Linked DNA regions of Homo sapiens: region 2 is linked to region 1. Evidence: fine-mapped expression QTL. A gene starts in region 1. The other region holds a variant in brackets. All regions are shown on one strand. Distances are between the middles of the regions.

Region 1 (3,028 bases):
CAGTACACCGGGTAGCACTCTCCTTGGGTCACATCCACCTCGTAGAGGCCGCCCCGCACGCACACAGGCTCGATGTTCACAAGCTCCACCATCTCCGGCTCGTGCCCCGTCGTACTCTGGCAGAAGCCGCAGGCGCGGTCCTCATCGTCATCTTCTCCGGAACTGGAGGCTGGGCCCGTGGGGGAGCACACATGGTCGCCGTCCCGGTCCCCGCCCTGGGGCCGGGCACCCGTGGTCTGCAGCAGGGTCCGGAAGGCGAGCTCGATGCGGAGCGAGTCGTAGCCGATGAAGGGCTTCCAGGTCTTCTTGTCCTCCTTGTAGAACCAGCGTACCTCCTCCGGGCCCAGCTCCGTCACTACCTCATAGCGGTGCCGGGCCGCCGGGCCGCCAAGCCGGGTACGTTTCCTTTCCCCGGGGGACCCTCCTGTCGCGCCGCCGCCCCCCGAGTTCGTCGGGACCAGCGGAGGCTGCTGCGGCGGGTGCAGCGACAAGGAGCTGCCGCCGCCGCCGCTCTCACCCTCGCTGTAGTAGCGCAGCGAGGAGCCCGACTCGGCGGAGCTGAAGTCATAGTTCTCGTCACTGAGGCAGGGGTCCAGCGCGAGGTGGTGGTTGTGGTCGTCGGTGCCCGGCGCCAAATGCAGCCCGGGTTCCCCGCGCAGCAGGGCCAGGGGCACGTCGCCGTCGTCCGGGTCCCCGCCGGGCAGGTGCTCGAAGCAGCAGACGCCGCCGCCGAACGCTGGCCTCGCGTCTGAGCCCAGCTCCCAGGCGCCGCCGCCGCCGCCTCGGCCGTTATGCTCGGGGCTCCGTGGGGACCCGCGGCCCGGGTAATTCATGCTGTGGAGACGCCGCCGGCTGTCCGGCGGCGCGCGGAGCCGTGACCCCCAGCGCTTCCGCCACACATTCAACGCCGCCGCCCTCTCCACCCGAAGTTTCTAATCTTTCAAATCCCGACCCGAGCTGCGGCGGCAGCGGCGACCGCTCCGCCCCCACGAGACCCGCAGCCGCCGCAGCTGCGTTCTGCCGCCGGCCCCATTGTCACGCAGCCCGACGTAGGCGGTGCTTCGGCCCCCGCCCCGCCCCCCGGCCGCGTGCGCCGCCCCGGAAGCCCGGGCTGCACCGGCGCCGCGCGCGGGGTTCCCCCCTGCCCCTCTGGCTGGGAGGGCAGGGTGGTGTCAGGTCGCCCGCCGCTCTTGGGCCTCCTCGGCTCCCTTCCTCCTTCCTTGCGGTCTTCATGCACAGCTGCCTCGGTCCCCCGCTTCTGGAATTCACAGCCCAGATGTGGATAGGCTTTACCCCACTCATCCTTACAATGTGGGTCATGAGCCCAGAGCCTTAAGCTACGTGTTAGGAGGGCCCCAGGATGTAGGATTCAGCATTGCTCTTTTTGACCTTAGGCCCTACTGCGGCCTCGCCTGGACGTTTTGTCACCTGGCCCTGGTGCCTCCAGACAGAACCAGGACGCATAGGTGGGTGGATACGAGGGCACTCCACCCCACACCCATCACTCACCTTGGTGTCACCACTCCCACTGGGAAACTGGAATCTAAACCTTGCTTCATATGCCATCTCATATTATTACTTATCTTTTGATGCTTGGATTTCCTGTTTTCTCAACCTCATTGCTAGGCCCTTGATGGAAACCAAGTCCATGTCAGCCTCTCCCACACAGTGGGTGCGCAATCAGTCTTAGTTGATTATAATGATGTCAAGTCCAACCAGCTGTGGTAAAGAGTGTTCGATTGAGAGGTAGAAAACAACCAGGTTCTAGATTTAGCTTTGCTAACCATCCACAGGCAAATCACATAATCTTCCTGATCTTTTTGGTTTCCTCATCTGTAAAATTAAGATTCTTGGACCAGATGATATCTAAAGTTCCTTCTAGCAATGGAATTCTATGAACTTTAAGGTTTCTTCCAGATTTTTATGCATCTCTGATTCTGTAACTCATATTCTGGGATCAAGTTGAATACAGAGGCTCCCTTATGTGGGTCTTTTTTATTTAAAAAAAATTATTTTGTAAGCACATCACCCTATGTTGAGAATCCAGAGAAAAACCATCTCCAACCTCAGTGTTTTCATTTTAAGAATAGACAGTCTTCACTATTTCTTTTACTCTCTGGTGGAATCAGATTGGTAGGGCAATTTTTCTTGCTCCTGAGATGTAACCTGTCAGACATTATTACTCTGTCATTATTTAAATCAAGACTATCTGAAGTTTGTACAGGGCCTTTGTAGGAATTTGAAAAAAGGCATTGCTTCCTGTGGGCAGATACAGAGCGGTGTTGGAGTTGATGGCTTGTCAAGTAGAATACAGGCTGGATTTTCTGCCCCAATTAGTGCCCTTAGCTGGTTAACCTTGTGCAGTGAACAACCTATCCAACTGTATACTGCAGCTCTGACTGAAAGCATCTAAGATCAGGACCCTCTTTACCACTCAAAAAAAATTTCTGAGTGCCTGCTTCCCAGTTGCTCCTCCAGTATTTCTATTGACAATATGCAGCATATGATATTGGGTATGGGCTTTGGTCTGTTTACTAGCTGTAAAAGCATTCATTCTACAGGGTTTGAATAGGTGTCTGGCCACCTATATGCCAGGCACCTCTATGCTAACTTCTACTATAAGAGAGAATGGGAGAGAGTTCTTTCTTTCTTCAAGGAACTTACAGCCTAGAGGGGGATACAGACAAGTAAACAGATACATTATATTATAGTACAGTATGAAAAGTACTATGAAGGGGATTATAAATAAGGAATATCACAACATTTAAAATATCTCTATTCCTTTATGTTTCTTGATAGAATGTAGCCTAACTATATAACTATCTGGTCAGATTATTTTGGCCAGATTTTAACTCTTGACTACACAATTTCCGTTAACATTATCCTCTGTTAAAAAAAAAAAAAAAAAAAAAAAAAAAAAAAAAAAGAAGTACTAAGGCCGGGCGCGGTGGCTCACGCCTGTAATCCCCGCATTTTGGGAGGCCAAGGCGGGCAGATCACGAGGTCAGGAGATCGAGACCATCCTGGC
Region 2 (2,500 bases), 77 kb before region 1:
AAGCCTGGATAGCAGCACATCTTTTTTACAGCATGGCTTACAGAATATTTTAAGCCCACTGTTGAGACCTACTGCTCAGAAAAAAAAACGATTCCTTTCAAATGGTTACTGCCCGCTGACAATGTACCTGGTCACTCAAGAGCTCTGATGGAGATGTACTAGGAGATGAATGTTGTTTTCATGCCTGCTAACACAATATCCACTCTGCAGCCCACGGATCAAGGAGTAATTTTAACTTTCAAGCCTTATATTTAAGAAACAAATTTTATAATGCTATAGCTGCTATAGATAGTGGATGAATCTGGGCAAAGTAAACTGAAAGTATTCCGGAAGGAACTCATCATTCTAGATGCCATTAAGAACATTTGTGATTCAGTGATTCATGGGGGGTGAAAATATCAACATTCCAGAAGTTTGGAAGAAATGGATTCCAACCCTCATAAATGACTTTGAGGGGCTCAAGACTTCAATGAGGAAGTAACTGCAGATGTATTGGAAATAGCAAGAGAACTAAAATAAGCAGAGTGTGAAGATGTGACTGAATTGCTGCAATTTCATGAGAAAACTTCAGTGGATGAGGAGTTGCTTCTTATGGATGAACAAAGAAAGTGGTTTGAGATGGACTCTTGGTGAAGATGTGAATATTGTTGAAATGGCAACAAAGAATTCAGAATATGCCATAAACTTAGTTGATAAGGCAGTGGCAGGGTTTGACAGGATTGATTCAAATTTTCAAGTAAGTTCTACAGTGGGTAAAACGCTCTCAAACTGCATTGCATGTTACAGAGAAATCTTTCGTGAGAGGAAGAATCAATCGATGTGGCTAACTTCACTGTTGTCTTATTTTAAGAAATTGCCACACCCACCCCAAACTTCGGCAACTACCATCCTGGTCAGCAGCCATCAACATGGACGCAAGACCCTTCAACAGCAAAAAGATGCTGTGAACTCACAGAA[G/A]CCTCAGATAATTGGTTAGCGACATTTAGCAGTACAGCATTTTAAAATTAAGATATGTACACGATTTTTAAAGACATTATGCTATCACATACTTGTTTACAGTGTCGTGTAAACATAACTTTTATATGCACTGAGAAGCCAATTTGTGCAACTTGCTTAATTATGATATTCACTTTATTGCAGTGGTATGGAACCAAACCCACAATATCTTTGAGGTATACCTGTAATTTTTTGTGTATGTGTCCTATAGAGTTACTCAGAGTCCGATTTTCATTCACTGCATCCCTATGGTGTTGTTTAACATGTTCTTTGTCCCGTTTCCTATAATTTGGTAGTTAGTTATAGGGGCTTCATCAGATGCAAGCTCTGTTTTGGCGAGACTACTACTCCATATGTACATAGGTACACACAACTTCTTCTCTTTTTAGTGATGATAGCAGTTACTGATGATCATTGTTTAAATCCATTAGTTTATCATGGTGGCAAAAGGGCCTTTTAAATTCCATCACTCTTCATTTGTTTATAGGCTTATACTTCTAGAAAGAGAAATTTCCTTACATTAAATATTTAGCTGCACTGGGGTATAACCAAATAGTTTCTGCATGAACTGAGGCACAGTTAATCTAGAAAAGGTAGGATAAATGGTTAATTCTTCCCTTTATTAACAGTTTTCAAAATAACAAGTCATTAGGTTTTATATATTTTGATGTCATTGCTAACTCACAGATTTAAGCATATTTGATGCATATCAATCCACTGTAGTTATTATCCTTGCCAAGGTTCAAATTGTCTATTTTAGGTCTGTGAATCTCTCCAAGTTGCTTTTGACACAACTTCATTAGTTTTTGTTTTTGTTTTTTTTTTTTAAAAAACAATTGTGGCTTTTAGTATATTCAAAGAGTTATGCAGCTATCACCATTATCTAATTTCATAACACGTTCATCACCCCAGAAAGAAACACCATACCCATTAGCAGTCACTCTCTATCCCTCTTCTTCCCACCTGCCAGCACCCACTAATCTACTTTCAGATTTGTCTATTTTGAACATTTCATATAATCATACAATATGGGGCCTTTTGTGTCTGGCTTTTCAGTTGGTGTAATGTTTTCAAGTCTCATCCATGTTGCATCATAAATCAGTACTTCATTGCTTTTCATTGTTGAATAGTATTTCATTATATGGATACGCCACTTTTGTTTAGCCGCTCATCAGTTGATGGATGTTTGTGTTGCTTCCATTTTTGGGCTATCATGAATAATGCTTCTATGAACATTCTTTTAACAAGTTTTTGTGGACATACATTTTCAGATCTCTTGGGTATACACATAAGCAATATTACTGGCTCATACACTAACTTTAACTTTTGGAAGAACTGCCAAACTCTTTCCAAAGCAGCTGTACTATTTTCTGATCTCACAAGAAACATGTAAGGGTTGTGATTTTTCTTCATCCTAGCTAATACTTGTTAATTTCCATCTTTTTGATAAGAGTTATCCTAGTGGGTATAAAGTGGTACCTTTAAAGTGGTAGCGTTCAAGGTC

The links. PIP is the estimated chance that this variant, and not a neighbour inherited with it, causes the effect. A credible set is the group of variants that fine-mapping cannot tell apart.
Region 2: its variant is the best candidate, but not a certain one, in a credible set for the expression of DDHD1 in whole blood (TOPMed, PIP 0.56).

What each region holds. Positions count from the first base shown.
Region 1 is chr14:53,152,266-53,155,293 of GRCh38, forward strand. It overlaps DDHD1 (DDHD domain containing 1), which reads right to left and starts at 1,058. Exons shown (of 13, transcript NM_001160148.2): 1 at 1-1,058. The coding sequence starts at 833. It overlaps DDHD1-DT (DDHD1 divergent transcript), which reads left to right and starts at 1,089. Exons shown (of 3, transcript NR_110062.1): 1 at 1,089-1,466. RefSeq lists an enhancer at 1-83 and a silencer at 904-1,233.
Region 2 is chr14:53,075,859-53,078,358 of GRCh38, forward strand. The region is part of intron 4 of DDHD1 (DDHD domain containing 1); the gene reads right to left. Among named protein-coding and RNA genes, the nearest start is that of DDHD1, 76 kb to the right of the region's middle. The variant G/A (reference allele first, on the strand shown) is at 958.